Linked DNA regions of Homo sapiens: region 1 is linked to region 2. Evidence: fine-mapped expression QTL. A gene starts in region 2. The other region holds a variant in brackets. All regions are shown on one strand. Distances are from middle to middle. Region 1 has its middle 58 kb from the start of RNF19A. Region 2 holds the start of RNF19A (ring finger protein 19A, RBR E3 ubiquitin protein ligase).

Region 1 (4,393 bases), 58 kb after region 2:
GAGCACTTTTAAAATAGTAACTTATGGAAAAGCAAACAATAAAAGAAAAATATAACTTATCAAGTTTACTTATATAACAAACCTGCACATGTACCCCTGAACTTTAAAGTTAAATTAAAAAGTAATATTAGGTTTACCTTGAACAGTGAATAGGGGTCATATAATTTAGAAAGATGCAAAAGGTAATTGTATATCAAATTATATACTAAAGTCTTAATTATCATTAGAGTTGGTTCAAAATAAAATACTTATTCCTCAGAACAACTCTGTGAAGGAGGTATTACTATCTTCATTACAGATGGGGGTAACTGAGGCACAGAGATATTAAGTAATTTGCCTGGAGTTGCACAGCTGCTAAGTGGTAGAGGTGGGATTCCCATTGTTTTGGTTTTTTTCTCTTAGATCATTGCATCATTTATTTATTTTTCTGGCCTTTTGCACTGGCTGGGACTTCTAGTGTATACTTCTGAATAGCGGTGGTTATAGGGGGCATTGTTGATTTGTTGATAACCTCAAAGGGAAACCTTTCATCATTTCAGCTATTATTTGCCACAGATATATTTATAGGATATCCTTTATTGAATTTTGTAAATTATCTTCTAACTCCTAGTTTGCCAAGAGTTTTTACCTTTGAAAATACGTTGAATTTTATTGGCTGCTTATTTGGTGGGGGGAGCATCTGCCATATAATTGTGATTAACATGTTAATGTAGTGAATTTGATTCTTCAAATGTTAACCTGGGGCAAACTTCAGTGATCAGAGTATGTAAGATTGGAATGATGTCTTCCTTGAATGTTTGGTAGAAATTGCTATTAAGGCTGTCTGCACTTGAATTGTTTTTTAGTACAAGAGAGAGCCAGGTTTTCAGGGTTAGTAAGCAGCTCATTTTCATCTATATGAGCAGTAAGATAAGGCAGTCTCTTTGCTCTATAAGAGTTGACTAATTCTAGAATGTGTGGGCTGGCTGGTGACAAGATAGTCTTGCTTTTGCTTTTTTTTTTTTTTTTCTTTCCAGCCTTTTGCCTAAATAGCGTTGGATCACATATTTCTGTCACTTTTTGTCCTGCATGGAGGTAAAATATAGACATACATAACACCATGTGTTCCAGGTATTAATACCTCCAGATTCTTAATTCTGTATTCAAGATATTAGGAGAACAAATCTTAAAGGAACTCTAGTCTCATGAGGGCAGGGACCTTGTCTTTCCTTTTATTTTTCCTATACTTATAGTATTTATATATATGAAGAGGAAATTCTGATGGGACAGAAGAACAACTGAGCAAAGGGAATGAGGATGTTTCTGGACTCAATTCAGAGTTGATAACCAGTCACTTCATAATATTGTACAGTAAAATAAGTTGTTTGAAGCAATACAGTGGCTGAAAAGACAGTTAACTTTTAACAAGGTTTTATACCAAATACATTAGTTTACAAATATTCTATCATGTATGACAGCCATTGGACCTAATTTTCAGGGTTAATATAGCCAAGGCATTTTAATTTTGCTTTTGGGGGCTTTTTGTTGCTTTTTTGCTTGTTTAAAGAAAATGTAATACTTTCAACTAGATAAGGAAATCACAGTTGCCTTAGAGGTATCATGAACTGATGTTCTAGAGACTTTCTATTGAAAGCTTAATTAAAATGTGCACAAATTATTTCCCCATCCTTTTTTCCTTGCCTTCTTTTTGTGTTTTGTTCTCCCCTTCTCTTCTCTGCCTCCTTCCCTCATTATCTTCCCCCATAACCAGTGCAAATGACAAAATGTGTGTGATGCCAGTTTTCTCCATGTTCATAGTCACACACAATGCATATATACATTAATTTTCTTGATTTTTTCTCAGTAATATCTTTGGGAAATCTGTCCAAGTCAACTGTATAACTCCAACGCATTCTTTTTAATGGCTGCATAAGAATTCTGTAGTATAGATGTGCTGCAGTTATTCAGACATTCTCATATTGATGAG[CA/A]TTCACTTTGTTATTTGTTGTTTCTTTCCTCAATACAAAACACTGCAAAAAAATTCTAATAATTACGTCCTTATATTCTGGTACTTCTAAGTATGGGAGATAAATTCAAGGAAATCAAATGGCTAGGTTAAAGTCCATGTCTATTGAATTTTTAAAAGGTTTACCAGATTGTCTCCCAAAAAAGGCTGTCACAATTTACAATTTGCTAACAATACATGAGTTCCCTTTTCCCTGCATTCTACTAACAATAGGTATTAGAGCTTTACAAACTTTTAAACTGTTTGGTGTAAAGTATTATCTATTATCTAATGTTACATTTTCCTGGCTAGTAAATGTGTACATCTTTTTGTGTTTTTTTTTTTGTTTTTTTTTGTTTTTTTTTTTTGGCCTAGGGGCTGGAAGATGGTATTTGAGTTTGGTGTTCTCTAAATTGGCTCTTATATCCTTTGCCTATTTTTTTTTTTTTATTGTTTTCTTGTCAGTTTGAAAGGTATTTTGGCCAGGTGTAGTGGCTCACTTTGGGAGGCTGAGGCAGGAGGATTGCTTGAGGCCAGGAGTTCAAGACTAGCCTGGGCAACATAGCAAAACCCCATCTCTGTTAATAAATAAAAATGAAAATAGGGCCGGGTGCGGTGGCTCACACCTATAATCCCAGCTACTTGAGAGGCTGAGGCAGGAGAATAGCTTGAACCCGGGAGGCAGAGGTTACAGTGAGCTGAGATCACGCCACTGCACTCCAGCCTGGGCAACAGAGCAAGACTCTGTCTCAGAAAAATAAATTTAAAAAAATGAAAATAAATATATTTTTTATACTATAGCTGTTAATAGTTTGACTCTTGTATTTTTCTCCAAATATGTCATTCGACTTTTATTAGCATTGTGTGTGCATTCTATTTTATCCTTAAGTAAACTTTTAATTTTTGAATATTTTTAGATTTACAGAAAAGTTGCAGATATTTCAGCATTTCCACATACTCTTTACATTTTTTTTCTGCAATATGAAACCTGTTGTGTGTCTTTAATTGTAATATTTTAGACCTTCTGGTCATGATTAAGCTCTCCTCTCTTTCTAAATTGTACTTGTAGTCTCTTTTGGTAGTTTGTAGTGAGATTTTAAATTTTTCATATTTTATAAAATCTATCTTCAATTTATCTTAGCATTTAGTGTAATATAAAGGTCCAGTTTTACTTTCTTCCAGATAGAAAGCCATTTGTGATGGCACTATTTTTAAAATAATCTTTCCAAATTTCCCAGTGATTTGAATACTGTGTTTACACTAGAATCCATTTCTAGATTTCTACCAAAAAGTCTGCTGGGATTTTGACTGAATCACCACTGATACCTATTTATCAATATGAGGAAAACTGGCATCTTAACAATATCAAGTCTTCCTATTCATGAATACAGTATATCTATCTTTTAGTTTTTTAATTTCAACAATGCTTTGTAGTTTTCAGTGTACAGATCTCTTAAAAATATCAATTTATGATTACATTCATTACGAGTATATAGAAATTAGATTTTTGTATATTGATCTTGAATCCTACGACCTTGTAAATCACATTAATTTTAGTAGTTTTTTTGTAGATTCTATAGACTTTTTTTTCTTTTTTAAGTCGGAGCCTCGCTCTGTCGCCCAGGCTGCAGTGCAGTGGCTTGATCTCAGATCACTGCAACTTCCGCCTCCTGGGTTCAAGCAGTTCTCCTGCCTTAGCCTCCAGAGTAGCTAGGATTACAGGTGTGCACCACCACACCTAGCTGATTTTTGTGGGGTTTTTTTGTTTGTTTGTTTTCTTTTTAAATAAAGACAGAGTTTCACCATGTTGGCCAGGCTGATCTTGAATTCCTGACCTCAGATGATCCGCCTGCCTCGGCCACCCAAAGTGCTGGGATTACAGGTTTGAGCCACCGTACCCAGCCTCTATTGGCTTTTCTACATAGATAATTGTGTCTGCAAATAAAGAAAGGTTACTTCTTCTTTTCCAATCTGGATGCCTTTTATAACATTTTAACCCCTTATTGCACTGGTTTCAACCTCCAGTACAATGTTAAATAGGAAGGGTAAGAGGACATCTTTACTTTGTTTCCAGTCATGGGGTGGAGGTAGTCTTTCAGTCTTCCTCAGTTTTTATTCCTCCTGGCAGGTTCTTGAAAAACTCAAGTAGGTGGCCTTATCAGGATTGATTGGAAAACCCCAGAGTTTGCCTCTAAGTTATTCACTACCTTGGGTGATTTGCTTCCCCCCACCCCACTTCATTTTTCACAATTGAGATGCAGTTCGCATAATTCACATTTTAAAGTGTACGATTCAGTGTTTTTACAAGGTCGTACAACTGTTACTAATATCTGACTCCAGAACATTTTCATCACCCCAGAAAGAACCCTTTACCCATTAGTAGTCAGTTCCCACTTCCCCTTCCTCTCA
Region 2 (4,393 bases):
CCTGGACTCAAGTGATCCAACCACCTCTGCTTCTCAAAGTGCTAGGACTACAGGTGTGTGCCACCGTGCCCAGCACACTTGGGGAGTTTTAAAAACTACTGATGCCTGAGCACCACCCTCAGTGATTCTGATTTAATTGTTGGGTGCAACGTGGACATAAGAATATGCAGCCAAATTTGAAAACACTGCTCTAAAAGCAGAGGGAGATATAGAACAGAGAGCACAGGGATATTTCCGGGGTATAATAAACAGGACTTGGTGGTTAGTTATGAATTGGAAGGGACAAAAAGAATGGGGCCTGGGAACAATCCTAGGTTTCTGGCTTGTGTCTGGGTGAATGAAAGAAGCATGCTTTGAGGAAAGAACAAACTACATCTTGGACAGCCTGAATCTGAGGTGCCTCTAGGAATTCAAGTTGGGGATGTTCAATAGGTATTTGTTTTTTAATAGATTTATTTGGCCTAGTGAAGAATAGAAAGTCCTTCTAATTTTTAGGAAGACAAGAAAGCCAGAAGCAGCATCTCTGGAAAATATTACCGTTGTACAGAGTGTAAGACCATTTTCATTCCGCACAGCTTCTTTATTCAAAATCCCCTTTCAAGCCAGTGCCCCATCTGTGCTGAAATGTTGTTTAACATGTTGATCTATTTTCTTTTCTTTTTTTTTTTTTTTTTTTTTTGAGACGGAGTCTCGCTCTGTCGCCCAGGCTGGAGTGCAGTGGCGAGATCTCTGCTCACTACAAGCTCCGCCGCCCGGGTTCACGCCATCCTCCTGCCTCAGCCTCCCGAGTAGCTGGGACTACAGGCGCCCGCCACCACGCCCAGCTAATTTTTTGTATTTTTAGTAGAGACGGGGTTTCACTATGTTAGCCAGGATGGTCTCGATCTCCTGACCTCGTGATCCGCCCGCCTCGGCCTCCCAAAGTGCTAGGATTACAGGCGTGAGCCACCAATTCCGGCCAACATATTGATATATTTTCAAGAAGGATATTATATATGGGTACTTAACTTACTATTCTTGTGCTATCTGTAGGCTTAAAGCATCCCATATGTAAAGTCGCTGGCAGCCTTCAAGTAGCATTTAAAGGTATAACAGCTTTAAAACTTCCCATAAATGAAAATAAACATACCCATAATTACTTCCTTTAAGATTCGAGGCCAAAGACACTTAAACCTAAACTGCCTAGCTTGTTCAATTTTCTAATTGGTAAACATTTACTGGGTTACCAAAGATACCAAGTACATTCGGAAAGACCATGGCTCCTTGGTTTGTTTCTAATTTAAATTACACAGACACACTAAACAAGGACTGGGAGAGTGATATATTTAGTTAAGTAACAGATGGCAAATGGACATTCTGTCCAGCCTCTATCACATTCGTTTCTCAGTATTCTATGTTAGAGTGATCTAAATCTTGAAGAGAATAAACCAGGAGGAAATGCACCAGGCCCAGACGGAATTTGTTTATTCAACTAAGAATACCAAGACTAGTGTAGATTGAAACATTCAAAGGGGATATGACTGGCTGAAAAGATATGAGACGAAGGAACAAATAAAGCTGGATTAAAGTAATTAGGAATGTATTAGAGATGAAATAGGAATTCTGATTACTTGACTGCAAAATAGTAAAAAAAAAATGAAATAAAAGAGATGAATGGAAGATACTCTCCAAACCCTCACGTAGGCTTGCTATTGTGGCTAAGTACTGTTCCTAACAGCCTCTGCAAAGACAGGTGCACTAAGAGGGCGGCTGCAGACGCACAGGGTGCTGCCGTCCTCTGGGAAAGGACATTTCCTCGCCGAGAGCTGCAACATCCCGGCACTTCTCTCCCTCGGCCTGCCAATCTAGCAGGTGAACCCTGAGAACACAAAGGAATGAATAATGCCGGGCAAACTGCCAAGAGCCAGAGTCGCCGAGTCTGGCAACTCCCTTCAACCGGGCGCAGCTCCAGCCACCCCGACCTGTCCTTGGAGGAGACGCTCTCTGGGCCACGGAGAACCGGCCAGGGAGACACCGGCCCCACTGCCCGGCGCGCTCGAGGCGAAGTCCCCTCCGCCAGGGACAGGCGTGGGGGCCGCAGTCGGGGCCACCCGGGTGCAGCGGGGCGGCTCCTGCGCGGGCGCGGAACGAACGTGCGCAAGGGAACAGCCGCGTCCAGAGCCGCCCGCAGCGGGCCCGGTGGGCGTGACGCCATGACGCACAGCACGCGGGCGGCGCGCTGGGGCGGGGCGGCCGGGGGCGGGAGGAAGAAGTGGGAGGAGGAGGAGGGGAAAGCGGGGGCTGCGGGAGGGGGAGGTGGTAGTTGCGGCGCTGGTTCCCGGGAGCAGCCGTCGAGCCACAACTGCGGAGGAGGAGTTCGGGAAAGCGGCCGTCGGGACTCCTCCCCTCCGTCGTCTCCGCCCCGGTTGAGAGGCGCCTCGGCGCATCGGAGGGACCCTCCCCCGCGCTTCCTCAGGCTGCTGTCGCCGCTGCTGGGAGATGGGCCTACTCGCCCGCCACCCTGCGCTGCCGCCGCTCTGAGGAGTTAAAGGTACGGGCGGGCACCCGGAGGAGCTTGCGCCCCGGAGCGGGAGAGAAGGGGCGGCTCTCGCTTACGACCCAGGGAGCTCTGGCCGGGCCGCAGCCCTAGCGCCCCTGCCCGGGACAGAAATGGATTCGGAAGTCCGGTGGGAAAGGCGTCTCCTCCAGTGTCCAGCGTGGGCTCGGGGCCGTGGCCGGCTTAGGGGGTCAGGCCTCGGTCAGCTCCGGGTCCCCTACCCGGCCCAGGCGCGGGCGTCTCCCGGGCCGCGGGGGCCGAGGTGGAGCGTGGGATCCGCCCCAAGCCCTGTCCTCCTGGTGCCTGTGCGGCCGGCGGCCGGCCCGGCGATATTATGACGGGCCGAGGCGGCGCTCCCCTCGAGCTGTCTCCTGCCCCTAAAGCGGGGGAGACCCAAGGGCGGTTGCCGCGGGGAGGCGGCGGGGGCGGAACGCATTCCTGACGGGTGAAATCGGCTCTAACGGGACCGATTTCCGGGCCTCGCTGCAAATTTGGAGCCGGGACATCGCCCCGCAAGCCGTGCTGCCTGGGGCCTTAGGGAGGGGAGCTGTGTTCGGAGGAAGGTTAGTCCGGGACTGCTACCACCTCCTTCAAAAGCAAAAATTACACATCACACCAAAATGGTGTAGCCTTGGGGTGAAGTATGTGTTAACGGGGGTCTTCCGGGATTGTCTCCCCGTGCTAAGCCTTTAGGGTGTTCCCAGCCCTCGCCCGGCAAGTAATACTACTACTTTGAATTTTCAGTTTTTCTTATCTGGGTTCCACTCTGCAGTTGCTCTTTTTTTCCCATTTCCATTAATGGGAAGAAGAAAAAGAAGTTTAGGGTTCATTAACCCCGCGACAAGGGCAGTAAATAAAAAGAGGGAAGAGAGTGGTTAAGGCTATATATGGGAGAGAGAAACGTTTAATTTTTTCCCATTGACCCTTGGAGATATAAATACACGAACGATGCTTTACTCTGCTTAATGTTTACTGTCCACAGTGTTGCAGAATGTTCTGTTGGGGTGACGTTAGAAAAGACGGCGTTTAAGTGCCGTTGCAATTTTCAAACCTAGATGTTGGCTAGAAATGCTAATTTTAAGTGTTAGTAAACAGTAGAGGCTTAAAGCAGCCCTTTCCTTTGATCGGTTGTCTTAAATTGTGATCTTTACATTCCACATTTTTTTTTTTTAAAGAACATGGTTCTTTTCATTTTTTTAAAATATCTTTTCTTATTTTAACCTAGATTCATTGAGTTTTGGTTGTTTGAAGTCTGACGGTTTGCCTTAAGTTTTATTTTCAGTTTTGCCATTACCCGTCTTAATACACATTTTACCACTTCTGTTTATAATGCAAGCCATTACCCTGTTTGCCTGTTTTTGCTTCTTTAACACTGACTGAACTATCTGAATTGAGTTAAAATGTAAATACTTCTCTATTTAGAAAATGGCGATGATCGTATTTTCAAATGTTCTTTCCTTGTTACAGTTTCATGGTAAAAATTTAGAATTAAGTCTTGGGACTTAATAAACCAAATTATGCTAAAAAAACACTTTTAAAATTTGTTAGTTTAATGCCCTGCTTAATGTTCTCTTTTTTTAAATTACTGTATAAAATTTAACTGAAGTTTAAATTTTACGTGTCCATGGAAAATATTTTAATGTCATCGCAAGGTGTCTTTGAGGAAAAAATTACAGTTGGCAACTAATGTTAGTGTATTTTTTTCACTATCTTAGCTTCCAGGAGATTCCAGTAAGATTAATTTTTAAAACTGCAGCATCATTTTAGGAGTTGAAGCACAACCCAATTCTTAGTACCAAATAGTGGCCACTGGAAATTTTGTTTTCTCATTTAGGGGATGCCTCAGTTGATCAGTAG

The links. PIP is the estimated chance that this variant, and not a neighbour inherited with it, causes the effect. A credible set is the group of variants that fine-mapping cannot tell apart.
Region 1: its variant is the best candidate, but not a certain one, in a credible set for the expression of RNF19A in tibial nerve (GTEx, PIP 0.62).

What each region holds. Positions count from the first base shown.
Region 1 is chr8:100,249,596-100,253,988 of GRCh38, reverse strand. No RefSeq gene overlaps it. Among named protein-coding and RNA genes, the nearest start is that of RNF19A, 58 kb to the left of the region's middle. The variant CA/A (reference allele first, on the strand shown) is at 1,967.
Region 2 is chr8:100,308,004-100,312,396 of GRCh38, reverse strand. It overlaps RNF19A (ring finger protein 19A, RBR E3 ubiquitin protein ligase), which reads left to right and starts at 2,444. Exons shown (of 10, transcript NM_183419.4): 1 at 2,444-2,530. RefSeq lists silencers at 2,087-2,246, 1,952-2,341, 2,702-2,791, 2,842-2,891, 3,162-3,211.